Linked DNA regions of Homo sapiens: all the other regions are linked to region 1. The links come from fine-mapping of genetic effects on gene expression. A gene starts in region 1. Each other region holds a variant in brackets. All regions are shown on one strand. Distances are between the middles of the regions.

Region 1 (5,151 bases):
ACCATCTGATGACTGTTCTTGTGCATCTGGTGTCCAGGGACATGGGCGACGTGCCTCATCTGTGTTAGAGGGTGGAACAGATGTGTTTGGCACTGCATGGGATCTGGTGTTCCTCTTCTCCTGGATTCACATCCCCACCCAAGGCCCTCTTAAGTGTTCTGCCCTAGCCTGGTTCAAGGAGGTCATCCAACTGACTTTATCAAGTGGAATTGGGATATATTTGATATACATTTGCCTAACAACACGGAAAAGGGTTTTCCTCCTTCTTTCCCTGCAAGGGACATCCTACTGCTTTGAACGTCCAAGTATGCCTAGTCATCTTTTAAAATGTAAACGTTTTCAGAGAAATGAGGTTTGCTTTCCTTGTATGTGCTTATTATCTTGACTACCTGAATTGCGAGGGATTTTTATATATTCATATGTTCCAAAGTCAGCAACTCTCCTGTTGGTTCATTATTGAATGTGCTGTAAATGAAGTCTTTTGCAACTAAAATGAGATTTGACCACATCCAAAGAAAAAAAAATTAGAGGATGTAGTTTTCCACCAATCAGAGCAATCCAAACAAATCCAAAAGTTGAGTTTGGACTCAGTGGAAGGAGGCAGATTAGGCTTTTTTTTTTGGCTTCAGTGAGGTTCAAGAAAACTGAGTCCTCTCTTTGGTCCATGATTCTTTGGTGTTTGAGGCTAAAACCCTGGCTACTAATCAAGTGTTACTTTGACTCACTCTGCCTTTGTTTATCCTTGTTGCATCTGTCCTCCTAGAGGTAGAAGGGAGGGGGCAAGACAGAGTTGGGAATGCCTGCTTCTCTGGGCCACATGTCAACAGAGTGGTGGCCATTTCTAAACCTGAAAGATCTAAACATCATGCCTTAGCCTGGCCTAGTGTTTCTCAACAGGGTCCCACATTGGGCCAGGATAGTTTTCGTTGTTGGTATGTCCTGAGCATTGCAGGAGGTTTTGCATATGCTAGTAGAACCTGTCAGCCTTCCCACAATTCCAGATGCTTCCTGGTAGGATGGAACCTTCTCCCTCATCTTTGAGAACTAATGGATTCTTTGCGCTTACTCACCTACAACATGTCCCCCACACTGAACTTGCACCCTGCCATTTCCTAGATGTCTGCTTGGCAAGAGCTTCCAAATTACTAAATATTCTCATCTCTAGAACTTTTAATACAATGGGTTCTCAAGGAATTAAAATAAAATGCTAATATGAGAATAATTCAGAATATAACTAAATTTTAGATTATTTATAAAGCAACATGGAATCTTGTAGAAACTCAGGGACGGGCTGGGCGCGGTGGCTCATGCCTGTAATCCCAGCACTTTGGAAGAACGAGACGGGCGGATCACTTGAGGTCAGGTGTTCAAGACCAGCCTGGCCAACGTGGTGAAACCCCGTCTCTACTAAATATACAAAAATCAGCCGGGTGTGGTGGCGCAGCCTGTAATCCCAGCTACTTGGGAGGCTGAGGCAGGAGAATGGCTTGAACCCGGGAGGCGGAGGCTGCGGTGAGTTAAGATTGCACCATTGCACTCCTGCCTGGGCTACAGAGTGATCCAAAAAAAAAAAAAAAAAAAAAACTGAAAAACTCAGGGACGTTGTTATAACTTAACTAGTGTTCTTTGTTCTGTGGTGTGCTGAAAAGAGAGTTAATGGAGTCCTGGCTGTCAGTTCACCGTGAGTCATAAGAGGATGTGTCCTAATGTTTCAGATTTGTAACTGGGGATCCCCTGGAAGAATCGTCTGGAAATTACGACCTTCATCTGGCGATTGCAGCTGTTAAAGTCTCCAAAGAAGCCATTCTTACATTGTGTTGTGAAATTATTACTCTATCTCAAATCTGTGCCAGAAAGAAAATAAAATGTGTGTTTATGTGTATATTATAAGCTATGTTTTATTGAACTAATCATTACAGAACTTTTATTGGGCACCGACTGTGAGCCAGGCACTGTGCTAGTTTCTTTGAAGGCATTATTTAATTTAATGCTCACAAAACGCCTCTGTAGTGAGCAGTATTGTCATTCCCATTTTGCACGTAAGGAAGTTAAGGCTTAAGAAAGTTGTGCAGCTTCCTCAGGATCACCAAGCCAGTTAAGCACAGTGTCAGATTTCAAATCCAAACTTTGAAATTCATTCTCTAATTTCTTCAGACTACATGGATCGGTTCGGTCCAGTCTAGCTGTCCCAAGTTCTACTTTGGTGTTTTGAGTCTGAAACCCCAACTACTAATCACGTGTTACTTTTACTCGCTTTGCCTTATTTTGCATGTGTCCTTGTTGAATATGTCCTCCTCCAGGAAAAAGGGAGGTGGCAAGACAGAGGCGGCAATAGGGGTTTATTCAACAGATATTTATTGGGCACCACCACCCGCAGATCCCTGCACTGGGCAAACAGGACAGAGATGTTCCTGCCTGAAAGGATGTGTGGATAAGTGCACAAATGTGTGGATAGATGGATAAAATAAATAAGGAGGAAGCACATGGAATACATCAACAAATAAGTGAATCATGGTATGAGAGAATCAGCGGGAACAGTGGATGGCATGGGTGTGTGAGTGAATGGGGAAGTAAACGAACGAACGAACGAATGAATGAATGAAGTGGTTTTGAGTCTGAGCTACCAGAAGCCCGAGAGCCTGGCTGCGGGCGGGCGGAGGGGCGGCTACTCCACACAGTACGGTAGGCGCAGGCTGCTCCTCCTGTAACCCAGCTCTCACCGCCTCCCCCTCCTCTCCTCTCTCTCCTCCTCCTTCGCCGTCGCCGCCGCCGCCGGCCGCCCGCCGGCCGCCACGACCCCAGTCCCCGGCGGGCGGGCGGAGGAGGCGACCGCCGCGCGCTGCTGCACTCATCCTGCCGCCGCCGCGATGCGCAGAGGGGCCGAGCCGCCTGGGGGCCGCCGCCGCCGCCGCGCCGCACCATGAAGCTCCGCAGCAAGGCGGCGGCGCTGCTCTTGCTCGCGCTGGCCGCGCTGCTGCTGGCGCTGCTGTCCCTGCGCGCTGGCCGCGCTGAGCCCCCAGCGCTGCCCGCGCGCCCCGCGTCCGCCCCGCAGCGCCACCCCGCGCCTGTCCCCGCGCGCTGGCCGGGGCCGGGCGCCCTCCCCGGGGCCAGCCCGGGAGTTCGGAGGCGCCGGCCCCCGCGTCCGCGCCCCCGAGCGGGCCGCCGGGGCGCTGCGAGACTGGAGAAGTTGGCGAGGTGAGTCGTGGCAACCCCAGAATCCCATCTGCGGACCCGTGTCTCGCTCCCTACACCCGTGCCAAGTCCAAGGGAGGCTTTGCGCTGGAGAGACAGATTTCCAAGTTTCACCCACGGGCTGCCCACTTCTGTTTCTTAACCCGATAGAAAAGAAGACCCACCTTGGTGGAGTCCCCCTAACAGCTCGGTGTTGATAATCACGTACATTTTTTGAAGTGTCAAGGAAAGTGGTTTCGTACATTACATTTTTTAACTGTCAAGGCAAGGCGTATTTTTGCACTCTTGCAAACATGCACCCTTTGTTTAATTTGTCAAAAGCCATCACGGTGCAAGAATGTTTTATCTAATTCTCATGTTTCACTGGAGAATTTTACCGAAACCTTAGATATGGTTGAGTTGGAAAAGTTAGATGTTTACCAAGGACTGGCAGCCTCTCATTTAACCTCGAGTACCCCCATGCTTAGAACAGAAGGGACACTTGACCTAAGTTTATTAAAAAGAAGTTTTCTCCTTGAAAGGACTGATGCGTGGCACAGAAAAGACAGAGTGGGGGTTTCCAGATCCTCATTCTGTTTCAGGCTCGAGTGTGGTCAAAGGGTCCTCCTACAAGAAAAACAACTTAACCTTCGACCTTCTGTTTGATACTCTCTTTCCCTACACAAAGCCTAACACGCGGAGGCTTTTCATCAGAGAGCTTTATTTTTGGCCTCAGGGTTGCTGGAACGCCCCGCAGGTTAGGGATTTGAGTTCATTTCCTTTGTTGTGGAGGGCTTTTCAACAATCCCCTTGTCTTGTAGCGAGTCTGTTTCATCTGCCCTTTCAAAACTGTTGTTTCTAACTGCCATTGCAACGTCCTTGTTTGCTGGGCTCCTTAATTTCAACCTGAAAGGAGTTGAAAAATTATTTTTGACCATAATGACTAAATCTCTTTGGTGCCTTTACTGTAACTAAAAGACACGAAACCTCAAGAAGTAGCTGTGTCAGCCTTTGTTTCCCTTCTGTCTCAGTACAAATGGGTACTGACAAGTTTTAGGGGGAAAAAACCCCAACAATCTGTCGCTTTAAAGTACTTATAACACTTTACAGCCCTTTCTGGATGTATACAGTCTTTAAGGATATCTTTGTTAGGAAATTAATAGGATTTCCCCTCTTCTATACTGGAGTTTCTTGTAAGAGATTAATTAGGGTTTAACTGCAAGTTTAATATGATTGCTAAGTTTGATGGGACAACTGGTAAGATAATAATAACTGTCATCCTTAACATCGCTAACCTATTGCCAGGGACAGTGCTAACCGCAGTACATACAAATAGTCACAGTTAACACTTAACATATACAACTACATAATCCACACCATAACCTTCCCCCCCACCGCTGTTTTTCTTTTGGTTTTTTTTTTGTTTTTTTTTTTTTTTTGTGACAAAGTCTTCCTCTGTCGCCCAGGCTGGAGTGCCGTGCTGCGATCTCTGCTCACTGCAACCGCTGCCTCCCGGGTTCAGGCCTCCCAGATTCAAGTGATTCTTGTGCCTCAGCCTGCCAGGTAGCTGGCAAACAGGCGTGTGCCACCATGCCCAGCTGATTTTTGTATTTTTAGTAGAGAGACGGGGTTTCACCATATTGGCCAGGAACTCCTGAGCCCAGTGATCCATCTGCCTCAGCCTTTCCCAAAGTGCTAGGATTACAGGCGTGAGCCACCGCGCCGGGCCCAACCATAACCCTTTGACAGTGGTTCTCAAAGTGTGGACTTCAGACCAGTGGCACAGGCATCATCTGGGAACTTGTTAGAAATGCAGATTCCTGGGCCCCACCCCAACCCTACAGAATCAGAAGCTTTGGGGGGTCAGCAACCGTGTTTTAACACGTCCCTCCCATTGTTTCTCATGCACAACAAAGTTTGAGAACCTGCTCTGCAAAGTAAGCACCAATGGTATCCCCACTTTTCAGATGAGGAAAGTAT
Region 2 (5,151 bases), 100 kb after region 1:
AACACACTTCAATTTGCTGGGAGTGATGGCGCATGCTTGTAGTCCTAGGTACTTGGGAGGCTGAGTCAGGAGGATCACTTGAACCCAGGAGGTCAAGGCTGTAATGAGCTGTAATTGTACCACTATACTCCAGCCTGGGTGAGAGAACAAGACCGTGTCCCTAAAAAAAAAAAGAAAGAGAGAGAATGTATTGATTGAGTCAGTTTATTTACTTATTCATAAAATGACATGGTTAGGTCAGATGAGGTTAAAGTTCCTTTTTGTGTAAATGCTCTCTATTTCCATAATCTGTTTTTTATAGCTCTATAATAGATATTTGTGGGATTTTGGCTGCCTGGAAACCACCCCACTCCTGGTACCAATTTCTTTAGTCATTAAAACTCTTTAAATTGTAAGTGACAGCAAACACAACTCAAACAAGTACAGAGAAAAAAAAAGGTCTTGTGTAAGTGAAAAATCTGGAAATAGCTCTATATTCAAAGGCTCAAAAGATGCCAAGGGAAATGTATCATTTTAACAATGCTTTTTTCATTAATATTTTATTGAAAACCACACATCCTTCTAGGATTCCAGCCATAAAATTTTCATGTCATTTTAATAGAATCATTCCATCTTTGGAAAAATACCTTGTCTCCATGTTCAGATGAAAAATGGTATTGCCAACCTGGGTCAAAATATCAAGAAAATTGTTCTCCTGGTGTTTAACTTAAGACAACTATAATATATCTTTTTCCCCTCATTGAAAACTATCATTAACCAAATAAACCCCTCGTACCAGAAACAATTCAATAATCTAAAATGAATGAATGATTTGGGAGGGGGTGGTTCCTTATCATAAATTTGATCTGTTGGACAAGAGCACTTCAACAATTCCTCAGTTCCACAGTCCCCATAGACTCCTAGAGGTGACAGTCAAAATCATAAATGTTGATGTATCCACTATACTTATATAGGCTCTATGTCATGTATATGCATATAGGCTGTAACTATAAAGAGACACCTGGGAACACCTATGCCTGTCTCATTATGGAGCACTTAGAGTTTATCAAAACAATAGCATTTCTTTTTTCAGGATTGCTATTCTGGGTCAAGTGACAATGCAAGTCTAAATATCATATTAGGAAATTGAATTCTTCTAAATTATTGTTATTAGAAAAGATTGCAAGCGGCAAGGCACAGTGGCTCATGCCTGTATCCATCCCAGCATTCTGGGAGGCCAAAGTGGGTGAATCACCTGAAGTCAGGAGTTTAAGAACAGCCTGGCCAGCATGGCAGAATGCCAGTCTCTACTAAAATTACAAAAAAAAAAAAAAAATAGCCAGAAACCATGGCGGGCACCTGTAATCTCAGCTACTCGGGAGGCTGAGGCAGGAGAGTTGCTTTAACCCAGGAGGCGGAGGTTGCAGTGAGCCGAGATCACGCCACTGCACACCAGCCTGGGTGACAGAGCGAAACTCCATCTCAAAAAAAAAAAAAAAAAAGAAAAGAAAAGATTGCAAGCACACAGTTGAAAGAAAAGTAAAAGGACTGATACTAGCTTTTTGTTTGTTTGTTTGTTTTTTGTTTTTTGTTGTTTTTTTTTTTTGAGACGGAGTCTCAGTCTGTCGCCCAAGCTGGAGTGCAGTGGTGTGATCTCGGCTCACTGCAAGCTCCGCCTCCTGGGTTCACGCCATTCTCCTGCCTCAGCCTCCCGAATAGCTGGGACTACAGGCGCCTGCCACCGCGCCAGGCTAAGTTTTCTGTATTTTTAGTAGAGATGGGGTTTCACCGTGTTAGCCAGGATGGTCTCGATCTCCTGACCTCGTGATCCGCCTGCCTCGGCCTCCCAAAGTGCTGGGATTACAGGCTTGAGCCACCGCGCCCGGCCGATAGTAGCGTTTAAAAAAAAATTAAATGTTTAAAACTTGATCACCGTTTATAACAGCTTCTCTGATATTTATTGTTTGTATGTGTATGGAGGTTTTAAAACATAAAACCAATACGTGCTCAAATGAGAGGAAATTCAAATAAAGTCAATAACTAATTAAGAAAATAGTTGGTGTATGGTGTGTCAGAATTTAAGCTTCCTAAGGCTGCCATCTGCCTATTTAGAACCCACAATTTCTGGCACAGAATAGATGACCAGCATAGCATGCCCTGTCTTATTCCCTTAACATACATTATTTCCATGCATGCCAGCTCAAAATTCTGATTCCCAACCTGTGACTCTGCCCGAAGGCTCCCTTCTGCCACTGCAGCCTGCTCCACTTGCCTACAGGCAGGCTCAAAGTATTGGGAAATTAACACCTCTGGGAGTAGTAACAATCACTGACTGACAGGAGTTGGTAGATAAATACCTCAGCTCCTCATCTTCTCTGGAAGGGTAACTCTGGTCTGTTCCAGAATTGCATCCCAGAATTTCCCAGTGTGAAGAAGCTCAAGTTGCCCACAGTAGTAACTTCTTTAATAATATATATTCTTTATTGGCCTTCTTGCCATCCCCATCACACTTCCCCACTCCTGCCAGTGTTTTCTTGGATTTGGCCCCCAAATAGACCACTTGAACTCAAATCTTTGTCTTGTCATTTGCAATTGGTAATTTTTGTTCATGTGAATAAAAAATGGAATTTTGGCCGGGTGCAGATGGCTTACACCTGTAATCCCAGCACTTTGGGATGCCAAGGCAGGAGGATCACCTGAGGTCAGGAGTTTGAGACCAGCCTGGCCAACATGGTGAAACCCCCATCTCTACTAAAAACACAAAAAGTAGCTGAGCGTGGTGGCACGTGCCTGTAATCCCTGCTACTTGGGAGGCTGAGGCAGGAGAATTGCTTGAACCCGGGAGGCAGATGTTGCAGTGAGCCGAGATCCCGCCACTGTACTCCAGCCTGGACAACAGAGTGAAATTCAGTCTCAAAAAAAAAAAAAACTTAAATAATAATACCTATATTGTGTCTAAGTTTACTAACCGTAAGAATAATTATTCTCCTCCCCGCTCTACTCCTTCTTCACGTCTGTTTCTGTTTGTTGTTGTTGTTGTTGTTGTTGTTTTGTTTTTGAGACCAAGTCTC[C/A]CTCTGTTGCCCAGGCTGGAGTGCAGTGGTGTGATCTTGGCTCACTGCAACCTCCACCTCCCAGGTTCAAGCGAGTCTCCTGCCTCAGCTTCCCAAGTAGCTGGGACTGCAGGCGTGAGCCACTATGCCCAGCTAATTTTTGTATTTTTAGTAGAGATGGGGTTTCACCATGTTGGCCAGGCTGGTCTTGAACTCCTGACCTCAGGTGATCTGCCCACCTCGGCCTCCCAAAGTGCTGGGACTACAGGCATGAGCTACTGCACCTGGCCCTTCATCTCTGTTTCTATTTTTATTTTTATTTATTTATTTTTTTGAGATGGAGCTTTGGCTGTGCTGCCCAGGCTGGAGTGCAATGGCACGATCTCAGCTCACTGCAACCTCCGTCTCCTGGGTTCAAGTGATTCTCCTGCCTCAGCCTCCCGAGTAGCTGGGATTACATGTGCTTGCCACTAAGCCTGGCTAGTTTTTGTATTTTTAGAAGAGACAGGGTTTTACCATGTTGGCCAGGCTGGTCTCGAACTCCTGACCTCAAGTGATCCATCCGCCTCAGCCTTCCAAAGTGCTGGGATTACAGGCATGAACCACTGTGCCCGGCCAATCTCTGTTTCTATTTTGGAAAGTTTGAATCAACTCTGCACAAAGTATTTAGAATTTAGCATACTTATATATTCTCTTATTTTTCTCTCATCATTGGATTTTACTAGCTATTATGATGTTACATATTCAAGGTTTATAACATTTCTCCTCCAGTTTGTAGCATGGCTATTACTTTAATTTTATTACAAATGATAACATAGTTGGGTGATTTATTTTTAACTCCAAAAATCCCCCAATGCTTTTATTATCCCTATTTCCCCTTTTAAGGTATGTATTTTAAACGCATTGTATTCTAGTTTTTTTTTTTTTAATTTCTGACTTGTGTTTAGGGAGTCAGTATTTTTGTACAACTCTTTTAAGATACAATTGAAATAGAATAAACTACATATATTGCTTTTTTTTTTTTTTTGAGATGGAGTCTCACTCTGTCGTCCAGGCTGGAGTGCAGTGGTGCGATCTCGGCTCACTGCAAGCTCCGCCTCCTGGGTTCACGCCATTCTCCTGCCTCAGCCTCCCGAGTAGCTGGGACCACAGGCACCCGCCACCACGCCCGGCTAATTTTTTGTATTTTTAGTAAAGACAGGGTTTCACCGTGTTAGCCAGGATGGTCTCGATCTCCTGACCTCGTGATCCGCCTGCCTCGACCTCCCAAAGTGCTGGGATTACAGGTGTGAGCCACTGCGCCCGGCCTCAATTGTTGTATAATAATAATTGTTGCACCATTATGTTTAGCAATTATATACTAAAGTTTTCGGGGGGTTGGGAGTATCTCTTCAGCAACTTACTCTCAAATAGTTCAGGAAAAGAAATGTTCGTAGTGTACTTGCAACTTGTTTGTTTGTTGGTTGGGTTTTGAGATGGAGTCTTGCTCCATCACCCAGCCTGGAGTGCAGTGGCAAGATCTTGGCTCACTGCAACCTCCAGCACCTGGGTTCAAGCAATTCTCCTGCCTCAGCCTCCCGAGTAGCTGGGACTACAGGCATGTGCCACTATGCCTGGTGAATTTTTTGTATTTTTAGTAGAGACGGGGTTTCACCATGTTGGCTAGGTTGGTCTTGAATTCCTGAACTCAAGTGATCTGCCCGCCTCAGCCTCCCGAAGTGCTGGGATTACAGGCTTGAGTCACCACGCCTGGCCTGTACTTGCAACTTTTATGTGAGTTTGAAATCATTTCAAAAGAGAAAGAAAAACCATAAATTATTTTTGTAATTCTTAACCTATGTAAGTATGAACAATACCTAATATTGATTGAGTCAGATCACTGGCTTAATTCTCTCAGCAAACCAATGAGTAAGTCACCACTATTAACTTCAATTTATACATAAGGAAACTGAGGCATTTTGATATTAATCATTTACCTGAATTCAAACAGCTAGGAAGTAATAAGCCAGGAATTAAACTAGATATCTGATTTTAGACCTTTTTCTCTTAATACACTATTTGATTTTATTATATTCAATTATCGAATATATATATGTGTGTGTATTTGTGTATATACAGTCAT
Region 3 (5,151 bases), 87 kb after region 1:
AAAATACAGAAATCAGCCGGGCGTGGTGGCAGGCACCTGTAATCCCAGCTACTCAGGAGGCTGAGGCAGGAGAATTTCTTGAACCCAGGAAGTGGAAGTTGCAGTGAGCCAAGATCGCACCACTGCAGTCCAGCCTGGGTGACAGAGCAAGACTCTGTCTCGGAAAAAAAAAAAAAAAAAAAGAAGCATATATTCTGGTGGGGGAAGCCAGACAATACTGATTGAGAAAAAGAAAGAAAAATTCAGCCTGGGCGACATAGTGAGATGCGTCTCTACAAAAATTAAAAAAAAAAAAAAAAAATTAGCCTGGTGGCACATGCAGGTAGTCCCAGCTACTGGGTGGGGAGGGGTTGGGGCTGGGGTGGGAAGATCTCTTGAGCTTAGGAGGCCAAGGCTACAGTGAGCTAGGATGGCCCCACTGTACTCCAGCCAGAGCAAGACTTTGCCTCTTTAGGAAAAAAAATAGTAACAACTGGGCGTCATGGCAAGTGCCTGTGGTCCCAGCTAATTGTGAGGCTGAGATGGAGGATCACTTGAGCCCAGGAGTTCAAGGCTGCAGTGAGCCGTGATTGCCCCTCTGTACTCCAGCCTGGGTGACACAGCAAGACCCTATCTCAAAAGAAAAAAAAATCCTCTGAGATAGTGAAAGGTGAAAGGAGTTCAAAAGGTGTAAAAAGAGTGGGCTGATGGGTCCAAAGTCCTGGGCTGGAGAGGAGTGTTCTACCAGCTGGGGGAGGGGCACCAGGGAGGCTGCTTGTAAGTCCTAGACTTATCAGATGGAGGCAGCCCAGGGGAAATCTGGGGAAAATCCCGTGAAACAGAAGGAATGACCAGGGGAAAGTCCCGGAGGCAGGAATGAATTTGGTGTGCTGGAAAGACAGGAATGGCCAGATAAGAGGAGAGAGGAGGAACTGAGAGGGGAGAGTTTCCAGGTCACCTTGAACCTTTAGAACAAGGGAGGAGTTGGAATCTCATTCTAATGGCAGTGGAAAGCCCCTTCGGGAAAGTGATAGGCTCTGATTTATGATTTAGAAATATCACCTTGGTAATGTGGTGGAAGGGATGCAAGAGTGAAAACACAAAGGCTATTTATTTGTGAGACTAATCGCAGCCACCTGGGTGAGCAATGGGGCCAGCATGGGCTTGCGTGGTGGCAGGAAATGGGAAGAAGTCGCCATATTTGGGATATGCTGTTGAGATAGAGTTTACAGGACTTGCTGATGAATTGGATGAGGGTTGTGGGGGGAAAGAGAGGAATTGAGGGTGATTCCAAGGTTTTGACCTATCCTGTTCCCATTACTGGAGCTACAGTGGTGAAAAGGACAGATTCAGGACTGGCTTCAAGGGGTTTATCAATGATTTAAATTTCATGATTAAAGAAAAAGTATCCCAAACCAACCTGGTCTGGGAGAGAACCTTCTTGCATTACATAATGCATAATCTCCTTCCGAGAAGAAACTGGCATCTCTGATAAACCTGTGTAAGCAGTATTTCTGATTAATTTTAAAGGATTAACATTTGTTCTAGGAAACCAGACACCCACCTCTCCTGTTAGGCAAGAGTGTACTGATCTTTAACCATTCTTCTTTCATTTCTCACTAGTCTTTCCATATAAAATGTCCTGACCAAGAGTGGATCTTTGACTTGATCTACTACCAGACTTTTCCCTTTCAACAAGATTGTAATAAAACTTTGATACATGTGCGTAACTAAGTGGTCTGAAAGATTTATTTTGGGTTATACTGCTCATAGACGTATTCCATGAAGAAAACAAAAGAATTTTAAAAAATGGCAGTGATGATCTCAAAAGCCCAATATTAAGAGGGAAATAAACAACCACTAATATTTGGTACCTGAATTATTAAAATCTGGTTTATTGCCAATAAATTTTACTAGTAATTGTTAAACCCTGAACTTCACGAGATTACCATAGACATACCCTAAAGTTTCTTCATTAAGGTCAAAAAAGATGAAGAATTCATTGTTTTGTTGTAGTAGATTTCAAGTGAGTATCTTGAGCCTTCCTTCTACTCAGCGTAAACATGCTATGATATATGGACTTTCCTGTCCTTAGAGACATGCATCATTTTTAGATTGTAAGACCCTTAAGGACCCAAATTTTTTTTTAATTTTATTACTATTCTTTTTTAATGAGATGGGGTCTTGCCATGTTGCTCAGGCTGGTCTCAAACTCCTGGGCTCAAGTGGTCCTCCCACCTCGGCCTCTCAAAGTGCTGGGGTTACAGGTGTAAGCCACCATGCCTAGCCTTTTTCTTTTTAAAGAGGTAAAGAAACTGAGGTTCGGAGAGTTTAAATGATTACCTGGGGTTGCACAGCTGAGACAGGATTTTAAGTTAGATCCTCAAAGGTCTTTTCACTTGTCCAAACCTGTGCCTGTGGGCTTATCGTAATTCCTGTGTCATTTCTTAGTAAAAATGATCTGCATTTAAAATGGCATTTCCGTTACTAAATAAACTTTTTTTTTGTCATCTTTCAGTTTCCCTTTCAAGACAATCTCTTTCAATCCATGTATTACCCCCTTCAGCTGAAGTTTTTGGAGACTGTGCACACTTTATGTGGACGAATCCCGCAAGTTTTTCTGAAGCAAATTGAGAAAACAATGAAAAGGGCTTATGAGAAACACGTCATCATCCATGTTGGCCCCAACCAGATGCACTGAATATTTTGTCTTGTTGCAAGTCAATTAGGTGTCTTGTGACCAAGGAAATACTAATCTCTAAGCTGCCTGGGTCTTTTTGTGTGAATATTTAATGGTGCTCCATGACTGTTGAGTTTTAAAAACCTCGTTAAATTTTGCCAAATCAGTTGCCCCCAAAAGGGAATATGCTTTTCCTTATTTTTTTTTCTAAAATGCTATTTATCTCTAAGGAAAAAAAAAAAAGACTATTACTCATTTAACATTGTTTAAGCAGGTTGAGCTAGCTGTGAAAATAGCTTTTGTGAGCCTTCTAATTCCT[A/T]AACGTCTGAGACCATTTCAGTGGCACCTGAGGTGTTATATTGATCTAGCATTCCTGAGACTCTTTCTATGCAACTGACTCCCCCACACCCGTGTTATAAAAGTAATACACACTTTTGAAACAGAGAGACACACTTGTAGAGCATATGGGTCAAGGGCTCAACATCAAGATTAGATTAGCCATAATCCTATTGACCAGTGGAAAAGATTGTTTCCATTTTAAAGCAGTTCCTTACAACCTTTTTTCTCTACTTTTGCATTTTCCACTCTAACACACATCTAAAACAGGTAATCTCAGTAAAAGCTGGCCTTTTTGCTGAGATTTTTATGTGGGAGACTAAAATATTAGATGAGATGATTATGTGTACAGAATTTTATTTAAAATACATCTGAGAGAATCATTCAGATACTTGGGTAGTGTTAAAGGATGAAGCATGTATCTGGGGGTATTTCTTCTTTTTCTTTCTTTCTTTTTTTTTTTTTTTTTTTTTTTGAGACGGAATCTCACTCTGTAGCCCAGGCTAGAATGCAGTGGCAGGATCTCGGCTCACTGCAGCTTCCACCTCCTGGGTTCAAGTGATTCTCATGCCTCAGCCTCCCCAGTAGCTGGGATTACAAGTGTGTGCCACCACACCCGGCTAATTTTTGTATTTTTAGTAGAGACACGGTTTTACCATGTTGGCCAGGCTGGTCTTGATCTCCAGACCTCAAGTGATCTGCCTGCCTCAGCCTCCCAAAGTGCTGGGATTACAAGTGTGAGCCACTGCACTCAGCCAATCTGGGAGTATTTCTAAAGAAAAAAATTACTTTGATTTGTGGAGGACTAAATCATAATACATTTCTATGCAACAATAGCTTCTGAGAGGAAATTCAGGAATGTTTGTGTTTACCACAGACAAAAACATTTGATCTGTTAATCATCAGTAGCTGTGGTCATCTCTCTTTCTTAAACTCTTGGGCAATGGGTGGAAATCAGAGACCAACTTCAAATTTAATGTGTAAAAAACAAATAGTTCAGCTGCTTCTATTGGTAAGAAAATTCAACTTCCTACCAGCCTTAGAAAGGTCTCTTTAAACAATTTCTTTCCCCCTAGGGTTACCTAGCTGGTCCATACAGGTTTTATCACCTCACTGCAAGGAGGAAGTTGAATATTCTGTTCCCCACGGGGATCTGGCTTAATCCCTAGTTGCTCATATAGTTGGTATCAGCATAGCAATATTTTGCATAATGCTTTATTTTTCTCAAATGACTATTGCATAGATGATCTTGATATTTGCAACAGCCTAGTGGATTTGGTAGGGTCCTGAATCATCTCTATAAGGCAAACAAGGAAATTGTAACACAAAGAAATAAACATATTGAATATAATTGCTATTCTGTAAGACATACAGTCTGTGTAAGATGTATCTTATTTACAGAGACATTTTTGAAAATTAAAATATTAAATACTTTTTGTTATATAGAGACAATGATCTGGAAGTATAAAAAGAAAAATATTATCTTGTTGATGTAAATATGATATCCTTATATATATTAGAATCCAATAAGATATCATGGGCGCAATATTAGCAAAAAAAAGTCAGTCTTACCCTGAAAAAAAAATAGATATGAAAATCTCAGCACTACACAGAAATGTTTAGATGTCAATCAGTTTTGGTATGCAGCATTATTATAGTAGTAACAAATTTAAATCTAAAATTTTAGAGTAATACTTTCCTTCTGATCAGTTGCCCTGTGGTTATTTTTGTTAAGGAAACTACCATTATGACGGGAAACTCTTATTTTTGCTGTTATATTTTGTTTCCTTATTTCACCACTAGAGGTGACATCATTATTTTGTAACTTTAGTACTAGGCTTTCCATTTGTGGTATGGACACGTATGATATGGAGCAATTTTTGAATTGTCTTTCACATAGGGGAAATTGCATCTTATATACCCATAAATTGGGTTTTAGTGAAAGAGCCAGGATGGAACATAATTTCCTAACTTCCATCCTAGTTTCCTTTCTACTTGTTCAGAATGGCCAGTGAAACACACAAATGGCACTCAGATTTGTTGATGGCTCACCAACTCAAAGAGGTTCCTTCTCTCCTTTGATAAGTCCCACAAAAACATCTACTGTAAAGACTTGAAATACAATGCCTTTCTTTTTTATGAGAGCCAAGTTTACC
Region 4 (5,151 bases), 53 kb after region 1:
GGAAAGATACTGTGTGCTTGCTGGCTGGGATTGCAACACCTGATAAGAGGAGGAAGCAAGCCAAAAGCAAGCATGGAAGCAGATGGAACATCTTAGAGAGCCATTATCTCAGAACATGCCGGAGAAACCAGATACTTTTCAGTTACGCAAGGCCTGTGGAAAACGTCCTGCATGCAGTTCTAACAGTTGGCCACACAGCTGAAATGATGAAATCAAAGACCAAACACAAGTTTAATGAGCCAGAATTTTAGAAGAACCATCTTGAACAAAGCCATCATTGCTTTGCTCAACTCAGAAGCAATCAGAATCTTGTTTGCAAAGACTAAACTGATCAGAAGAGGCTACTTCATTGATTGGTGCATGCCTGAATGCAGCCATGACATTGGTACACCCTGCTCTTTGTTAGAACGTCACAAAAATGAATATGTAAGTTATATGTAATTCCACAAGGGGGCACAATAGAAACAAAAATAAAAATTGATAGGCTTTAATTTTCTCCTGTGCCACCCCATTTTAAGGTAATAATTTAACAAAATGAGCAATCTTAAAATCTCAGATTAAAACAGTGTGGAACACTACTTAAGAATGCATATTTATTTTATTACAAACTCCCAATTATATATATATTTTAAAACAGAAAAGATCATGACCAGCCTGGCCAACATGGTGAAACCCTGTCTCTACTAAAAATACAAAAATTAGCCGGGCGTGGTGGCACCCAGCTACCTGGGAGGCTGAGGCAGGAGAATTATTTGAACCCAGGAGGCAGAGGTTGCAGTGAGCCGAGATCACACCACTGCACTCCAGCCTGGGTGACAGAGCAAGACTTTCAAAAACAACAACAACTACAACAACAAAACAGAAAAGGAAGCATTATATAGCAACATTATTTTCCAAGTATTCATTATTCTCTAAACTATCTTAAACTATTTCAAGAATATCAAAGAGGATACTTGAGAATATGCAGCATCAAACAGAATGTTCTTTGTTGTCTGCACACATAAAATTAAAGGGAAGTATCTCAAAGTAGACAATTAGAAAGTATGGCATGTATAGTATGATTCTATAGGTAGTCTTTTCTTTCCTTTTTTTTTTTTTTAAACATGGGTCTCAGTCTGTCGCCCAGGCTGGAGTGCAGTGGTGCTATCAGAGCTCACTGCAGCCTCAACCTCCCCAGGCTCAGGTGATTCCCTCACCTCAGCCTCCTGAGTAGCTGAGACTACAGGCATGCACCACCACACCTGGCTAATTTTTGTATTTTTTGTAGAGATAAGGTTTTGCCATGTTGCCCAGGCTATTCTTGAACTCCTAGGCTCAAGCAATCCACTCCGCCTGCCTTGGCCTCCCAGAGTGCTAGGATTACAGACTTGAGCCACTGCACTCAGCCAGTATTTTTTAAATGCAAAGAAATGGCCAGGCGCTGTGGCTCACACCTTTAATCCCAGCTACCTGGGAGGCTGAGGCAGGAGGATTGCCTAAGCCCAGGAGGTGGAGGCTGCAATGAGCCATGATTGTGTCACTGTACTCCAGCCTGGGTGACAGAACAAGACCTTACCTCAAAAAAGTAAATAAAATGAAAATGCAAAAATGTATGTGTTCGTGTGTGTTTATAAACATTTACACATACAACCATTTATTCGGTAATATTTATTGAGCCTCAGTTATGTGACTGGCCCTAGAAGTATGACTGTGAATAAGATATCCAAATATCCTAATCTCATGGAGCTTATATCCAAGTCAGAAAAGAATGACAAAAAGCAAGTAAATTAGTTAATTTCAGGCAGTAATAAGAATTACAGAAAAAAGAGTTTAAAGAGTGATGGATTGATTGAGTTGAGATCTGACTTCCTGGCCATATGAAGACCCCATGGAACAGACTGGGATGAGGTTCACTGTTAATGTTGGTTAATTCTGAAGAGAGAGCGGGGGTTGGTTATGGGGGTTTGGAGTGGTGGTGTGGTGAGGATAAGGACAGGTAAAGAGCAACTTGAACTTACTCTGTTGATTGCTGAATTGTTTGTATGTTTTTACAACACACATGCATGAATTTGTGTATTGTGGAATTCAGACAACTCGTGTTTTGTTTGTTTGTTTGTTTCTGAGACAGGGTCTCCCTCTGTCATCCAGGCTAGAGTGCAGTGGTGCA[A/G]TCATGGCTCATTGCAGCCTCCACCTCCTGAGCTCAGAGGACCCTCCTGTCTCAGCCTCCTGAGTAGCTGGAATTACCCACCCAAACTACCACACCTGACTAATTTTTTAATTTTTTGTAAAGATTGGATCTGTATGTTGCCCAGGCTGGAACTGAACTCCTGGCCTCAAGCAATACTCCCACCTCGGTCTCCCAAAGTGCTGGGATTACAGGCATGAGCCACCGCACTGGCCCAATTTTTAAAAATAGTAAACCAGTAAGAAAGAGAAAAAAGACAAAGAGCATCAGAGCTTTACGTAATGTATGCAAGCTATCTGTTCACATTTGCAAAGACATTCGCATGCACCAGAAGTACAGAGCCGTGAAGGTATAGGCCTCTTTCTGACCATGTGTTCTGGGTCTGCATGTATTTACAATTAAGACAAAAAATAAAGGTGGCAATGATAATAGAGAAAAGGGTTATTATATTATCCTGTTTACTCATCTCCCTGCTACATGTGTCTCTATTCTCCTGTTACTACTCCTGCATTTTTGGTTTTTGAATGCTATCCTCATCAGATGGATTCTGGCCCAGAATCCTCCTAGAGTCCCTGTTGCAGAGTCAAGTCCAGGCCTCTGGGCCTGATGTTGAGGGCCCTTTGCATTCTGAGTTTACATACTAACTTTCAGCATTATTCCAAGTCATGAATTTCCCATTCCAGCCACTCTAGTGTGTGTCACTCTTTCCCAGATGCTGTGCACATTACCCTCTGCCATACTGTTGCCTGGAGACAATAACCTGGCCATTCTACGCCCCTACCTCCAGCCTCACTTATTAAAATCACACCTAGTAATCTTAGCCCAACACCCTAGTAATCTAAGCTCAGAATTCTCTTTGCCTTTAACAAATTATTTCTCACAGGCAGACACACACACACATACACACATGCCCGCACAGTCCTGAGATCAGTGTCAATGTGGACTCATGTTTTTTTAAATAAATATATAGGTACAGATAAGTAAAGAAGTAATTATGGATACTCAACATCTGTGAAAAAAAGGAAAAGATAAAAATAAGAAAAAGAAGTAATTATGGATATGTATGTATACATGGGTTTGTATACATACATGTATTTCCTAGCTCTGTCTACTGTTAGGAGGCTAGAAGCAGTGACACCTGAGTAGCAATGAACACACCTAGCACCTAGATATTGGTTTCTGAATTCCATCCTCCAAAGGAACCCAGGGCTCCTGGGAGAACTGTTCATTCCTGGCTGAAGGCAGGGAAAATGCAAGATGCCCCTGGAGTTAACCTTATGGTGCCAGAAGGTAAGGATGTGCTAAAAAATATTTTTTAATAATAAAAATAATTTTTAAAAGGAGGGGGTTCATATTGGAAGAGGTAGGAGCCAACCTGAAAGAGCTCCAAATGACTTGAGCTGGAACAACTTGAGCAACAAAATAAATAATGATAGTATTTAATTATAACACTTAAAATAATTTTTCATAAGTCCACACCAATCTAAATAAATAACTGAATTAAAAAAATAAATACATAACTGAATAAATAAATAAATAAATGGAGAAAAATCACACCTCTTCCTTATAGAAAATTCCAGTTAATACATGTAGAAAGAAGGAGGCAAATAGAAAATCATTGTTAGAGCACCATAGTAATAATTACTGCGGGTAAGATCTACCTGTGAATGCTAAAATTAAGGAGTGAAAGTTTAACCAGAAACATGATATTTGTATGATTTTTAAAGTATCTCCTCCAAAATATTTAGTAAAGAAAAAGGGGAAATCCTTAGTTGACTGTGGAGAATATTGTCAGACTCCACCTTTGCCAAGCAATCAAGACTGATATCACTTGGCCCGGTCAACATCGTATATGCCCAGGCGTGTTTCACCTCTGTTCTTCCCAATAAAGCATAACCTCAATCTAAACATGCGAAAACATCAGACACCCAAATTGAGGGACTTTGTTCTAAATAACCGGCCAGTGTTTTCAAAGCTGTCCAGGTTATAAAAAAAAAAAAAAAGGAAAGGCTGAGAAATTGTTACAGATTGGAGGAGACTAAGGAGATGTGACAAATAAATTCAGTGTTTGGATCTTGGAACTGAAAGAGGAGATTTGTGGAAAAACTGGTGACATCTGAATAAGTTCTTTAGTTTATTTAGTAGTATTTATACCAGGGTTAATTTCTTAGATTTGATTACTGTTCTCTTGTTATGTAAGATGTTAACACAAGAGAAAGCTGAGTGAAGAATATATGGGAACTCTCTGAACTTTTTACACCTCTTCTGTAAATTTAAAATGATCTCACAATAAAAAATTTAAAAACACAGCCAGACACAGTGGGTGAAAATCAGCACAGTCAAGCAGCTTTGACAACACATTTTACCCAAAGAGATGTGTGTTTCAGAAATGATGGATGCTTCAAAAAGGAAAAGGGGGAAAAAGGAGGACAGGGACCTCATATAATTACAGAAATTAAGTATTATCTTGGAATAACTTCTCAAAATGTATTTGGCTTAAGGAAGTGAAAATTTACAAAGATAAAAATGGGTGAATAAATACAATAGAGTACACATAAAGCAATCTTTATTTTAACTGAAAAAATGCAGTAATGGTATCTGTATTTCTCTTTTTCCTTTTTTTTTTTTTTGGAGACAGGGTCTCCCTCTGTTGCCCAGGCTGGAGTGCAGTGGCATGAACATGCCTCACTCTAGACTTGATCTCCTGAGCTCAAGTGATCCTCCCTCCTCAGCCTCCCGAGTAGCTGGGACCACAGGCACGCCCCACCACGCCTGGCTAACTTTTTATTTTTTTGTAGAGATGGGGTTTCACCATGTTGCCCAGGCTGGTCTGGAACTCCTGGCCTCAAGTGATCCTCCTGCCTTGGCCTCCCAAAGTGCTGGGATTACAGGCGTGATTACAGCACCCAGCCTCTTTTTCCTGTTCTTTATTATGATAAATAGAAATCACATAAAATGTACCATTTTAACCATATCTAAGTGTCCAG

The links. PIP is the estimated chance that this variant, and not a neighbour inherited with it, causes the effect. A credible set is the group of variants that fine-mapping cannot tell apart.
Region 2: its variant is the best candidate, but not a certain one, in a credible set for the expression of GXYLT2 in unexposed skin (GTEx, PIP 0.69).
Region 3: its variant is the best candidate, but not a certain one, in a credible set for the expression of GXYLT2 in esophagus muscle (GTEx, PIP 0.71).
Region 4: its variant is the best candidate, but not a certain one, in a credible set for the expression of GXYLT2 in coronary artery (GTEx, PIP 0.68).

What each region holds. Positions count from the first base shown.
Region 1 is chr3:72,885,314-72,890,464 of GRCh38, forward strand. GXYLT2 (glucoside xylosyltransferase 2) reads left to right here and starts at 2,733. Exons shown (of 7, transcript NM_001080393.2): 1 at 2,733-3,195. The coding sequence starts at 2,921. RefSeq lists silencers at 2,773-3,002, 3,103-3,232.
Region 2 is chr3:72,985,427-72,990,577 of GRCh38, forward strand. No RefSeq gene overlaps it. Among named protein-coding and RNA genes, the nearest start is that of PPP4R2, 8.8 kb to the right of the region's middle. The variant C/A (reference allele first, on the strand shown) is at 3,051.
Region 3 is chr3:72,972,480-72,977,630 of GRCh38, forward strand. GXYLT2 (glucoside xylosyltransferase 2) reads left to right here. Exons shown (of 7, transcript NM_001080393.2): 7 at 2,498-4,436. The coding sequence ends at 2,680. Among named protein-coding and RNA genes, the nearest start is that of PPP4R2, 22 kb to the right of the region's middle. RefSeq lists an enhancer at 4,923-4,992. The variant A/T (reference allele first, on the strand shown) is at 2,979.
Region 4 is chr3:72,938,600-72,943,750 of GRCh38, forward strand. The region is part of intron 3 of GXYLT2 (glucoside xylosyltransferase 2); the gene reads left to right. Among named protein-coding and RNA genes, the nearest start is that of GXYLT2, 53 kb to the left of the region's middle. The variant A/G (reference allele first, on the strand shown) is at 2,147.